Linked DNA regions of Homo sapiens. The protein of the gene in region 2 purifies or fractionates together with the protein of the main gene of each other region. This does not show direct contact. Each region holds a gene or a part of one and is shown on either strand. Other genes may lie near its edges.

Region 1 (7,025 bases), on a different chromosome or scaffold from region 2:
GTGACTCAAAAGTGTGGCCGATTTAGGGAACCAATAAAGGTGACACACCCAGAGACCAGCAATGGTGGTAAGCCTCTGACACGGGAGCGTGGGTGATGTGGCAGTATATTCTGTCGTAATCAGCTTCCTGGTGGCACAGAGAAAGGAAGAGAAGGAGTGGGATGGGGCACAATCAGAATTAACCACCACATGATTCCCAGAATTCAGTGTTCTGTGCACATGGGCCATGTCCTGAAGCTAGGTGGGCTTTCTACCGTCCTTAGGTCTTTGCTGGAGTAGACCGTGTGGTATAGTGGAAAGAATGAGGCTTGGGGTCAGACACAGATTTGAATTTGAATCCCAGCTCCAACAACACCTTGCAACTGTGAATCTTGGACAAGATACTTCTCCCTGGGCCTCGGATTGCTCTTCTGGAAAGAGCTATGTCCCAGGATTACCGTGAGAATTAAATCAAAAAGTGTGAATCACACCTCGCACACACTGCCTAGCCCCTGGTTGGCACTCAGCAGATGTTAGTTTTCTTTTGAGAAGAAAGCATTGTGTTCCTGTGGGATTTCTCTTTTAAATTGCAATAAGATAAAAAATCTATGTCATAGGAAACCTCAAGTTGCCTGGTCCTCAGTAGAGCATTGTCAGTGTTAGGCTCCATTTCCAAGTGTGTAGATTGTCAGTGTTTATTTGCAAGTATAATTTGCTTTTATTAGATAATTTTCAAATAAAATGGCCGATCAGACCAAGCCCAAGAAATTTGTTAAATCCTTGTTACTTCGATGAGTCTTTGCTTCCCCTTTCCAAAATTCAGTGTTCTTGTGGCTTATTCATTAATTTTACGTCTCTATCCCAACCAGGTTCTCTCTAGTTCCTTTGTTGCTTTATGTTCAGAGATAATGCTGCTGATCATCCATTGTGGAGACCACTTTTGAAATAAACTGTAGTGAACATGTCTTTTCTGTACTGGATAGAAAAGATATTCAGTTAATTGATTACTTTTTTTCCCTAGAAAAGTAACTTTCGAAAAACAGTGGTTCTACCTGGATAACGTCATTGGCCATAGTTATGGAACTGCATTTGAAGTGACCAGTGGAGGAAGTCTACAGCCCAAGAAGAAGAGGGAAGAGCCTACTGCAGGTGCACATTTTGGATGCGTGAAATAGATGCTCTCCAACTGACTAGTCAGAAACATCTCAGCCTCCACCTAATTCCCAAGTGCTAGGCCATGCTATCCCAAAAGAAATCTTAACTCATAATCTAAGAACTGCAGCTCAGTGGAGTGAAGCAAGTACTGCCTTTGGCCATGAGATAACCTGGATTCTGGCTCCAGCCCACCATTAAATGGTTCTCTGTTCTTGGGCCAGGCATTTAATCCTATGAGTCGTTGCTGCGTCATTGCAAGAACATAATGTAAAGTTCTTTCAGTGCCCAGAAGTTATGTAACAGCTGTGAGGTGGTTAGCATATGGTGTAGAGGTTAAGAGGTCTGGTTTTGGATCCAGCTAAGTTCAATTTCTACCTTCATCACTTGCCTTGTACCGTTGGGCAACTTATTTGATTTCTGTGAGTCTTATATCCTTATATATGTAAAATAGGGTCATAAACACATTTAATGCCTAGGTTGTATTGAGTGTTCTATGATATGACTCATAGGAAGTTCTGAATAGTGTCTTGCTTTTAGTAAGGGCCCATAATTTTAGCTATTACTATTATTATTTCTTAACAACCTCTTGTCCAAAAGCTGTTATTGTTAATTAAAATTATATTTATTAAAATGAACATTGAGAGTATCTTATTAATTAAAACACAAGTAATTATTTGAAGTTAAATACTGTTAAAGTTTTGAGTCAAACCTGTTATTTAGATACATTTAAATTAATATCCATATTTTTACTAAGCACCAAATATATGCCAGGTATAATTTGGCGCTGCAATTATAGCAGTTCATAAGATAGACTGTCGTATAAAATGTGCTTACCAGTTGGAACACCAAAAATAATCAAGTAGACAAGCAAACAGCATGATTTCTGATGGTGAAGTGACACATGCTATGAAGATAATAAAGCAGGGGCGTGTACTAATTTGGTAAAGCAAGAGAATGAGCTCAGCCTCAAGTGATAGAAAGGATCCAGCCACTCAGACATCTGTCGTAGAACCTTCCAGGCAGAGGAAGCAGCAGGTGCCAAAAGCCTGCTGTGGGACCTTGCTGGGTGTGTTCAAGGAACAGAAAGAAGGCCATTGTGGCTGAAGCTAAAGTGTCAAGAGATCAGGCCAGGAATGATAGGCAGGGGCCAGATCATTTATGACCTTGCAGGTCATCTTTGGAGTGTATTCTTATTGCTATGGGAAGCCACTGTATGGTTTTAAGCATGGGGTAGATGAGTCAAATTGCATTTAAACAAAGAGCACTCTGGCATCCAGGTGGATAGTAGGGGGGCAAGACTGGGAGCAGGAAGATGACTTAGAGGCTTGGAGTAGTTTTGGCAGGAAAGGATAGTGTGATGGGGGCAGTGCAGCTGGGAGGCCAGACTTGAGTGGCTGATGGACTGGATGTGGATATGAACTCAGAAAAAGAAAGTGTCAAATAATTTCAGACCATAAATGTCAATAGAGCAATTTCTTTCCTTAGAGACTAAAGAAGCGGGCACTGATAATCGAAATATAGTTGATGATGGGAAATCTCAGAAACTTACTCAAGATGACATAAAAGCTTTGAAGGACAAGGGCATTAAAGGAGAGGTAATATTCAAAGGATTTTTAGTTTTGTTTTTGTCTGTTTGGCATTTAGGAAACTGTTGGGTTTTTAAAGCAGACTGTACCTAAGGTAAAACAAAAAAATAACGTTATAGCTTTGATAGAAATAGGTTGAAATGTACATGTTACTCAACATTTCAAAGATTTTATGTCTTATATACAGGAATATAAGTGAATGACATTACTAATGTCAGTGGTAGAGAATGTAATAACAGTGCATATCAGGATTTAACTTTGTTCATTTTCAGTAATGTTTTCAGCCAGTGTCTTCAGAAATTAGTTTCCTTTACCTCTCTTCTCCTTTTGTTGGATATCTCTGTTCTTTTACGTTGGTTTAAGTGGAGTTATAAAGTACTTGTATTTTATTATAAATTCCAAATAGAGTATAGAAATATAAAGTTCATCTATTTGGACTTCTGTGGAAAAGGGATTGGAGAATCAGACCATTGGATCCATTCTTGGGTAAGAAGCCTTTGGAAATTACTTGTTTTGTGAAAGTAAAGTTTCAGAAAATCTACTTGCTCCTTTTCTTATAGGAAATAGTTCAGCAGTTAATTGAAAATAGTACAACATTCCGAGACAAGACAGAATTTGCCCAAGATAAATATATTAAAAAGAAGAAAAAAAAGTAAGTAGTTTTTATTTTAAAAGGCCCACAATATTAAACTTCTTATATGTTTATAAAATATACATTTTATTACAAATAAAATATTTTAAGTCATTTTTTTAAATCAGCGTTCTGTTTTTTCTTCCCCCAGATATGAAGCCATCATTACTGTTGTGAAGCCATCCACCCGTATTCTTTCAATTATGTATTATGCAAGAGAACCTGGAAAAATTAAGTACGCTTTGTTTCCTTTCAAAAGTATAATTGGGGGAAATATGTCTTTAAGAAAGTCATGATTTTAAGTAAAATGAAAAAGCTTGCTCACCTGCATAAAGTATCCTCCTACCTCATAAATTGTAAGTCCTTTTACTGTCACCTCCAAAGCAATCAATAATCTTATCAACACAATTTTAATAAAGCAAACAAAACTTGAAAAATGATGATTAAAATAATAGGCTTTACTTAGCTAAAAATGAACAAATTATTGTTTTTACTTTAGCCACATGAGATACGATACACTAGCCCAGATGTTGACGTTGGGAAATATCCGTGCTGGCAACAAAATGATTGTGATGGAAACGTGTGCAGGCTTGGTGCTGGGTGCAATGATGGAACGAATGGGAGGTAAGATTTAATATTTCCATTTTCAACAAAACCCCACCCTGATGTGAGTAAAGGTGGTCCAAAAATGTAAACTCATGGAAAGCCAAATTGAATTACTTCAGGGTTAACAAAGTGACTTGGGTGAACCTGCACGGCTCCTAGCATGGGGACCTTCTTACACAGTCTCCATCACCCAGCCCCCCACCCATGGGTACCCCCAAACCCATGGCAATTGTCCTTTCTAGCTTCACTGTCAGTGGGCATGATGCTGGAGCCTGTGGCTGGCTAGGGCTTTCGGGACAGTGATTTTAGTAAACTCCTGGGTAGCTGGTGCTCATTTCATTGGGCCTAAATTGAAGGGATTGAGTGGGAAGATTACTAAGCATGTATTCTCTCTGGAAGAATACAACACAGCCTGATTTGTCTGGTTTTTTTCTGACCCCATAGAAGGTAAGAACTTGTAACTGCTCCATTTGAGGATCGGAGTGAGGGGAAGCAGAGTCCGTCACCAATCATGTGACATCCAAATTTGCAGACACAGGGTTTTACAATAGTATCAAGTGGGGATAAGCTTCTTTGAGTCTTCCTGCTATCTGCTTTAGAATTATATTACCTCCATTGGTAATACTCATAGACTCCAAACAGACTCCCTGAGGAGCTGCACCATCCTTCAGCCTCTGAATAAAGTACTAATAGAAAGACCTTCAGTCTCATTACTGTGGAGGACTCACTGAGGGTTTACGTAGTCTAGAGTCACTCCACGGGCAGATGTTTGTTTCTTTTATCTGTTCAGGTTTTGGCTCCATTATTCAGCTATACCCTGGAGGAGGACCTGTTCGGGCAGCAACAGCATGTTTTGGATTTCCCAAATCTTTTCTCAGTGGTCTTTATGAATTCCCTCTCAACAAAGTGGACAGTCTTCTACATGGAACATTTTCTGCCAAGATGTTATCTTCAGAGCCAAAAGACAGTGCTTTGGTTGAAGAAAGTAATGGCACACTGGAGGAAAAACAGGCTTCTGAACAAGAGAATGAAGACAGCATGGCAGAGGCCCCAGAGAGCAACCACCCAGAAGACCAGGAAACAATGGAAACAATTTCTCAAGATCCAGAACATAAGGGGCCTAAAGAGAGAGGAAGCAAAAAAGATTATGTAAGGATGCCAAGAGTCCCCACCACCCCCATAATCTCAGTCCCTCAGTTAACTTCAGTTAAGTCATGAGATTTAGTTTGGCTTTGGTGTATTAGCTCCCAAGATGATAACTATCAAAACAGAGAACGAGTGTGTGTACATGTATACAAACGTGTGATTCGGTCTTCGGGATGGAGCTTTAGGATACAGAAGCGTTGCATAGATAGCTTAATCATGGTTTTTATAGTATATAGGCTTTCTTGTGTATTTGCAACTTCCTTATAAACAACCTGCTTCTATTGGTTTAGTCCAAGTTGATAAATATTGTTGAAATGTTTTGACAGGCCAGAGCATTTCCATAAATTTGACTGAAAGACCCCAGTACATTGATTTCTTATTTTTCTTTTTGAAGATTCAGGAAAAACAGAGGAGACAAGAAGAGCAGAGGAAAAGACATTTAGAGGCTGCCGCTCTGCTGAGTGAAAGAAACGCAGATGGGTGCGTTGATGGAAGAAGGCAGGAGACTCCTCAGTGCATGTGGGCTCTGCTTCAGACAGATTGGCATTCTCTTTCTCCTTGTCTGCTTTGACTCTAGTGGGACCCGAGATGAGGATTTTGTCTTGGGGGTTTTTTTAAAGAAAGGAGGCTGAGGCTGGCAGGGGTGGGGAATTGATGATGCTGGTTTCAGGGTTTCAGAAGAAATTGAATCTTCTCCATCACTGCATCAAGATGGGCCCTGTGGTCCCACTGGATGCAGGGGATGGGGCACTCAAATGCTGCGATACAGGCTATAACAGATATCCACAAAGCAGCTTATGCAGTGTTGGATTTGTTTCCAGGTGATTTTTTTTAAAAAATCAAGAATGTCATTAAATGCGACTTAGAGTTGCCAAGTACCACAAGAGCTTCTAACCTAGTTCGCGTTTCCTAGAAAGAAATAGCTCATGATTGTATTCTGTTTTGGATTTCTAGAATGTTATATTTAAATCTCTTCTCTTTGTGAGTCATGCAAATTAAATACATGATCATTTTAAATGCATTTTAAAACCTGTGCTCCACTTTGAGGGTGTAGAGAAATAATTTGTCTGGCATTTTCCTTACAGTTTAATTGTAGCTAGTCGTTTCCACCCCACTCCCCTGCTGCTGTCTTTGCTGGACTTTGTGGCCCCTTCAAGGCCGTTTGTGGTCTACTGTCAGTACAAAGAGGTAATACTGGAATGGAATGGGCAGGAATTCTTATGTCTGAATGTTGATTCTTAAACTGCATCCCAGGAAGTAGTTCTTAACAGAATTCTGTTGTTGTCTGCAGCCTCTGTTGGAATGCTACACAAAACTGCGGGAGAGGGGAGGGGTCATCAACCTCAGGCTGTCTGAAACCTGGCTCAGAAATTATCAGGTACGTGTTCTTACAGCCAGTCCCAAGAGCTGCCCTCCCGAGACTTGACTTTCCTTGCAGTAGTACTAGAAGTCATTAAATAGAGTTATCTCAGCCAGGCACAGTGGCTTATGCCTGTAATCCCAGCACTTTGGGAGGCCAAGGCAGGCAGATCGCTTGAGCCCAGGAGTTCAAGACCAGCTTGGGCAACATGGTGAAACCCTGTCTCTACAAAAAAAAATACATAAATTGGCTGGGCATGACCCTGTATCTACAAAAAATATAAAAATCAGTCGAGCATGGTGGCAGGTGCCTGTAGTCCCAGCTACTCAGGAGCTGAGGTGGAAAGATTGCTTGAACCCTGGAGGTCGAGGCTGCAGTGAGCCGAGATCCCACCACTGCACTCCAGCCTGGGTGACAGAGTAAGACCCTCTCTCAAAAACAAAACAAAATAAAAATAGAGATGTCTCTGTTTCTTTCTACAGGGATGGAGATTTCTCATGGCTGTTACTCAGAGAATATGCCCCTGACTTTTTGTGACCCTTTTTTTCTCTTGTTATGTCAG
Region 2 (7,025 bases):
GGCAAGGACAGGAAGTTGGTCCCTGCTCGGGTGTGTGTGTGTGTGTGTGTGTTTGTGTGTGTGTGTGTGTGTTGTGTGATTTCTTCTGCAGCCTCCAGAGTCAGGAGTTTTTGTTTTGTTTTGTTTTTTTGAGACGGAGTCTCGCTCTGTCGCCCAGGCTGGAGTGCAGTGGCGAGATCTTGGCTCACTGCAGCTTCTGTCTCCCGAGTTTAAGCAATTCTCCTGCCTCACTCTCCTGAGTAGCTGGGATTACAGGCATCCACCACCATGCCTGGCTAATTGTTTTTGTATTTTTAGTAGAGACGAGGTTTCACCATGTTGGCCAGGCTGGTCTGGAACTCCTGACCTCAAATTATCCGCCTACCTTGGCCTCCCAAAGTGCTGGGATTACAGGCGAGAGCCACCGCGCCCGGCCCCAGTCAGTAGTGTTTTGCTTGCTGTGTTTGAGATAGGGTCTTGCCCAGGCTGGTTCATGGCTCACTGCAGCCTCTAACTCCTGGGTTCAAGCAATCCTCCCACCTCAGTCTTCCAAGTAGCTGGGACTACAGGCATGCACCACCACACCTGGCAAGATTTTAGATTTTTTTTTTTTTTTTGAGACGGAGTCTCGCTCTGTCGCCCAGGCTGGAGTACAGTTGTGCAATCTTGGCTCACTGCAGGCTCTGCCTCCCAGGTTCACGCCATTCTCCTGCCTCAGCCTCCCAAGTAGCTGGGACTACAGGCGTCTGCCACTATGCCCGGCTAATTTTTTGTATTTTTAGTAGAGACGGGGTTTCGCCGCATTAGCCAGGATGGTCTCAATCTCCTGACCTCGTGATCCACCCACCTCGGCCTCCCAAAGTGCTGGGATTACAGGCGTGAGCCACCGCACCCGGCCCAAATTTTTAGATTTTTTTGTAGAAATGGGGTCTGACTATGTTGTCCTGGCTGCTCAAACTCCTGGGCTCAAGCAATCCTCCTGCCTCAGCCTCCCAAAGTGCTGGAATTACAGGCCTGAGCCACTGCACCCAGCCTGGGGTCAGCATTCTTAGGTAAAGCAACTGAGCAGTGTCCCTGCAGGATCCTTGGAGGACTCAATGGATGGCCGGAACCAAAACAGGACGTGAGGGTCCCTGGTGCTGGGTCCCTCCGAAGCTCAGTGTGTGTACTTGGACTTTATACCCTCGTGCACAAATATGCATGACCCAAAATGACCCCAAGCGTCCATTTTGGTGGGTGCAATGTACATATTCTTCCCCTGGGGACAGTTGAGCTATCCTGGTATGTTTCTACCAGATTACATACTGGTGACCCAGGCAGACTGGGATATTTGTAGTCGGGTTTCTTTTCTCTTCTCTTCTCTTTTTTAGAGACAGGGTCTTGCTCTGTCGCCCAGGCTGGAATGCAGTAGTGCAATCTTGGCTGACTGCAACCTCCGCCTCCCGGGTTCAAGGGGTTTTCGTGCCTCAGCCTCCCGAGTAACCGGGACTACAGGCACCCTCCACCATGACTGGCTGTTTTGTATTTTTATTTTTATTTTGTTTTAGTTTTGAGACAGAGTCTTGCACTATTGTCTGGGCTAGAGTGCAGTGGCGCAATCTCAGCTCACTGCAACCTCTGCCTCCCAGGTTCAAGCGATCCTCCTGCCTCAGCCTCCCTAGTAGCTGGGATTACAGGCACCTGCCACCACGCCCAGCTAATTTTTTGTATTTTTAGTAGAGACGGGGTTTCATCACGTTGGCCAGGCTGGTCCCTAACTCCTGACCTTGTGATTTGCCTGCCTCGGCCTCCCAAAGTGCTGGGATTACAGGCGTGAGCCACCGCACCTGGCTAATTTTTGTATTTTTAATAGAGACGGAGTTTCACCATGTTGGCCAGGCTGGTCTCGAACTCCTAACCTCAAGTGATCTGCCCACCTCGGCCTCCCAAAGTATACTTGGCTTTTTGCTTAGGGCAGGGAGTGTGAATGAGCATGAGGGCCAGGCCATGGTGCGAAGGACCCTGTGCTCTGGGCACCCCCTTGCATGGATCTGGGTCTGGGTGAGTCACTGCCTGAGTCAGGGAACCCATGACTTTTTTTTTTTTTTTTCCCGAGACAGAGTCTCGCTCCGTCTCCCAGGCTAGATTGCAGTGGCACGATCTCAGCTCACCACAACCTCCGCTTCCCGGGTTCAAGCGATTCTCCTGCCTAGCTGGGACTACAGGTTCATGCCACCATGCCCGGCTAATTTTTGTATTTTTAGAAGAGACGGGGTTTCACCATGCTGGCCAGGCTGGTTTCGAACTCCTGACCTTGTGATCCGCCTGCCTTGGCCTCCCAAAGTGCTGGGATTACAGACGTGAGCCACTGCGCCTGGCCCAACCTATGACATTTTACACTTGCATGGTGAGTCCCCGTGTGGGCAGGCTGTACCCACACCCTTGCCTGCCTATCTGATTCCCCAGACTGAAGTGGGGGCCTCTGAGGGGGTAAAAGGATGTGGTCTTTCGGGACTGCTTGGCCTTTAGCTTGGTGGGTGGAGCCTGTATCCTACCTTGTTTTAACCCAGGAGTCACCCCAAAATATGGGGGGGACACAAACTGAAAAGGGAGGCTCAGACATGTCAGAACCATTGGCTGAGTCGTGGGTCAGGGGACCAGGGTTTCCCTAGATTCTTCCTGGGGAGATGGATGGGGAGCCAGAGATAACTCCCTGATGGGCAGATGCCCTCCTTCTTGGCCCAACTCCTGTCCCGTTACAGATTATCTTTGTCTTTTGTTTTGTTTGTTTGAGATGGAGTCTCACTCTGTCACCCAGGCTGGAGTGCAGTGGCACGGTCTCACTTCACTGCCACCTCTGCCTCCCCGGATCAAGACCCTCCCACCTCAGCCTCCAGAGTAGCTAGGATTACAGGTGTGTGTCACCACACCTGGTTAATTTTTTGTGTATTTTTAGTAGACTCTGGGTTTCACCATGTTGGCCTCACTGGTCTCGAACTCCTAACCTCAAGTGATCCACCTGCCTCAGCTTCCCATAGTGCTGGGATTACAGGCATGAGCCACCGCGCCCAGCCCCAGTTACAGATTATCTATCTGGACAAGGACAGGAGGCTCCCAGGAGTGGGGGAACTTGGATGTTGGCAGAAGTGGGCTGGTCTAAGGTTCCCCACCTTCCTTGTTCCACCTCCAGCCTCTGGGGAAGTAGGTACCTGCCTGGGAGAGTGACATCTCAGCTCATGCCCCACGCCCCAGTGTGATTTGTGGCTGGCCTGTCTGTATCTGTAATAGTGATAGCTTGGTCTAAAAGGAGACCCTGGGAACAGACAGAGTGGGCCGGCCAGGAGCCTGACAGCACAGCCCTAGCCTGGTCGCAGATGTCACCTGACAACTTTCCATTTGCAAATCCTCCTTCCTCCTCGGACATCCGGACACCCCATTGCCCCCTCTCAGAGCCCAGGTCTCTGGTTTCTGCCTGTGATTCTGGGCTGTAGCCCCTTTAGAAACTCAGGTGTCCTGGTCACCTCCTACCCCCAGGGCTGACTAGCCTTCAGCTTGGCAGTCCCTGCCCCTGGGGCCCTAGTAACCAGAGCCAGGCTCCAGCCGGCTTTTCCGGTTAGAGGTTGGAGGTGGTGCCCAGAGTGCCCCTGGAGGGGGTGGAGGGGCCTACGCCCCGGAAGTCCTGAGCCTTGGAACGCTTTCAGGCCTGGTGGCGGTGGGAGCCGGGGCTGGCCCAGACGCTGAGTGTCTGCAGTCAGGGAGCATCGAGGCAGATGTTTTCAGGCCTTGGTGTCAGGGGTGGGAGAGGGATGCCTCGTTTTGGGGAGGGGGCCACCCGAGGAGGCTGGAGGGCGGCGGCCCTGTGGACTATCCCTCATGTGCTCTTCGAGGTCAGACAAGTCAGATCAGGTGCAGGGGTGCCCAGAGGGGAACAGTGGCCGCTTGGTTCTGGGCAGGTGGTGACGTCTGCATGGAGGGTGACTAAGGCCAGGCTAAGAGGGAAGTGGGGGCACACACTTTGGTGGTTTGGACAAGTTTGGGCAGGGAGGGTCACAGGCCTGCCTGTGTCCGGCTCCTCGGAGGACCCCCTGCAGAGCCTCCCATCCTGAGGGTCTCTCTCTACACCCCCCGTCTCGTCCCGTCCCACAGGCAGCATGATCCCAGTGGCCGAGTTCAAGCAGTTCACGGAACAGCAGCCTGCGTTCAAGGTGCTCAAACCCTGGTGGGACGTGCTGGCCGAGTACCTCACCGTGGCCATGCTCATGATTGGGGTCTTTGGCTGCACCCTCCAGGTGAGGCCCTCCCCTGGCAAGGGGGTGTGACCAGAGGGGCGGGGCAGGTGTCTGGGGAAGTCGGGAAGCCTTCTCATCACCCAAGAAAGAGAGGAAACTGAAGACAGAGCCCCACTCAAAGGCCAATCCAGACCCCTTATCTTCCTTACCTCCATAGCCAGGAGCACCGGAGTCCCCACATTGCTATGCCATTCCATATCTTTTTTTCTTTTTTGAGACGGAGTCTCACTCTGTCACCCAGGCTAGAGTACAGTGGCATGATCTCAGCTCCCTGCAACATCTGCCTCCCGGGTACAAGCGGTTCTCCTGCCTCAGCCTCCTGAGTAGCTGGGATTACAGGCGCCCACCACCACGCCTGGCTAATTTTGGTAGTTTTTTAGTAGAGATGGGGTTTCACCATGTTAGCCAGGCTGGTCTCGAACTCCTGACCTCAAGTGACCTGCCTGCCTGGGCCTCCCAAAGTGTTGGGATTACAGGCCTGAGGCACTGCACCTGACCCTTTCTTTTTTTTTCTTTTTTTTTTTTTTCTTTTTGGCTAAAAAGAGACAGGGGCCGGGCATGGTGGCTCACACCTGTAATCCCAGCACTTTGGGAGGCCAAGGTGGGAGTATCACTTAAGGCCAGAAGTTTGAGACCAGCCTGGCCAACACGGTGAAAACCCGTCCTTACTAAAGACACAAATATTAGCCAGGCATGGTGGTGGACACCTGTAATCCCAGCTACTTGGAAGGCTGAGGCAGGAAAATTGCTTGAACCTGGGAGGTGGAGGTTGCAGTGAGCCGAGATCATGCCACTGCACTCCAGCCTGGGTGACAGAACGAGACTCCATCTTAAAAAAAATAAAATAAAATAATTGAAAATTAAAATAAAGAAACACGGTCTCATTCTGTCATCCAGGTTGGAGTGCAGTGGCATGATCACAGCTCACTGCAGCCTTGAACTCCTGGACTCAAGTGATCTTCCCGCCTCAGCCTCCAGAGTAGCTGGGATTACAGGCACACACCACCACGTCCAGCTAATTTTTAAATTTCTTGTTGACACAGGGGTCTTGCTATGTTGCCCAGGCTTGTCTCGGACTCCGGGCCTCAAGCCATCCTCCCACCTCGGCCTCCCAAAGTGCTGGGATTACAGGTGTGAGCCACTGTGTCCAGCCCCATATTTTCACAATGCTCAGTTTTATCCCTAGAATCTGGAAAGGACTGCAGTTGCTATATGAGTTTGTTACTTCTGTTGTAACAAAGTAGCAGGGATTGAGTGGCTTAAATAACCAGAAATGTTTCCTCTTCTGGGTCTGGTTCTGGAGGCCAGAAGTCTGAGATCAAGGCGTCAGTTGTCAGTGAGGGAGAATCTTCCAAGCTTCCCTCCTAGATTTTTGCAGCTCCAAGAGTTCCTTGGCTTGTAGATGACATTCTCCCAGTATTTTTCTTTTTCTTTTTCTTTTTTTTTTAGACAGAGTCTCCCTCTGTCGCCCAGGCTGGCATGCAGTGGTGCGATCTCGGCTCACTGCAACCTCCGCCTCCCGGGTTCCAACAATTCTCCTGGCTTAGCCTCCCAAGTAGCTGGGATTACAGGCGTGTGCCACCACGCCCGGCTAATATTTTTTTGTATTTTTAGTAGAGACGTGGTTTCAGTATGTTGGCCAGGCTGGTCTTGAACTCCTGACCTCGTGATCAGGATCAGCCTGCCTCTGTCTCCCAAAGTGCTGGGATTACAGGCATGAGCCACTGCGCCTGGTCGAGACAGTTTTTTTTTTTTTTTTTTAAGCAAGCTCTGTCACCTAGGCTGGAGTGCAGTGGCGCAATAATAGCTCACTGTAACCTTGTACTCCTGGCCTCAAGCAATCCTCCTCTACCACCCCCGCTTGGCCCCCCCTCCCACTGCCTCCCAAATCACTGGGATTACAAGCCTGAGCCACCGCACCCAGCCTCTCCCTGTATCCTCACGTCATCTTCTGTCTTTGTGTCTGTCTCTGTGTCTATGTTTCCCCTTTCTCTAAGGCGCAGTCATACTGGGCCCACCCTACTGGCTTTGTCTTGACTACCTCTGCAAAGACCCTATTACCAAACAGGAGCCGCCTGACCCAGCTCAAATAATACCACATTCTAAGGATTCGGAGTTGGGACTTCAACATCTTTTGTGGGGACACGATTCAACCCAGCTCCTTTTCTCAGACAAAGACCAGTGCTTTGTCAGTTGTGGTGGCTCATTCCTGTAATCCCAGCACTTTGGGAAGCTGAGGCAGGGGATCACTTGAGGCCAGGAGTTCGAGAGCAGCCTGGCCAACATGGTGAAACCCCATCTCTACTAAAAATACAAAAATTAGCTAGGCGTGGTAGTGCGTGCTTGTAGCCCCGGCTACTCAGCAGGCTGAGGCAGGAGAATTGCTTGAACCAGGAGGGGAAGGTTGCAATGAGCCAAGATTGCACCACTGCACACAGCCTGACAGAGCGAGACTCTTGTCTCAAAAAAAAAAACCAAAAAAAAAAAAAACAGTGCTTAGAGGTTTAGCAAAACTCTTCCAAAATCACAGCTGGCTGGCAACAGTCAGAGATGGGGGGTGCGGGGGGTCTCCCACCTTCAGCCTGCTTTTTCCCCATCCCCCTCATTTTCTCTCTTTTTTAAATTAATTTATTTTTGAGACAGAGGCTCACTCTGTCACCCAGGCTGGAGTACAATGGCGCGATCTCGGCTCACTGCAACCTCCATCTTCCGGGTTCAAGCGATTCTCCTGCCTCAGCCTCCCGAGTAGCTGGGATTACAGGTGCCCACCACCATGCC

The links. The genes of interacting proteins can lie anywhere in the genome.
Region 1: the proteins of LRRC8E (region 2) and TRMT6 purify together in Homo sapiens (affinity purification with mass spectrometry; 2 studies listed by BioGRID and IntAct, with this or other methods). This does not show direct contact.

The regions. Positions count from the first base shown.
Region 1 is NC_000020.11:5,940,509-5,947,533, reverse strand, and holds part of TRMT6 (tRNA (adenine(58)-N(1))-methyltransferase non-catalytic subunit TRM6), read left to right. Parts: intron 1-1,000; coding exon 1,001-1,128; intron 1,129-2,619; coding exon 2,620-2,729; intron 2,730-3,280; coding exon 3,281-3,372; intron 3,373-3,502; coding exon 3,503-3,586; intron 3,587-3,850; coding exon 3,851-3,975; intron 3,976-4,747; coding exon 4,748-5,106; intron 5,107-5,497; coding exon 5,498-5,583; intron 5,584-6,188; coding exon 6,189-6,291; intron 6,292-6,394; coding exon 6,395-6,481; intron 6,482-7,025. UniProt on the Homo sapiens protein: Substrate-binding subunit of tRNA (adenine-N(1)-)-methyltransferase, which catalyzes the formation of N(1)-methyladenine at position 58 (m1A58) in initiator methionyl-tRNA.
Region 2 is NC_000019.10:7,891,495-7,898,519, forward strand, and holds part of LRRC8E (volume-regulated anion channel subunit LRRC8E), read left to right. Parts: intron 1-2,078; exon of another isoform or gene 2,079-2,365; intron 2,366-3,025; exon of another isoform or gene 3,026-3,845; intron 3,846-4,104; 5' UTR 4,105-4,109; coding exon 4,110-4,247; intron 4,248-7,025. UniProt on the Homo sapiens protein: Non-essential component of the volume-regulated anion channel (VRAC, also named VSOAC channel), an anion channel required to maintain a constant cell volume in response to extracellular or intracellular osmotic changes.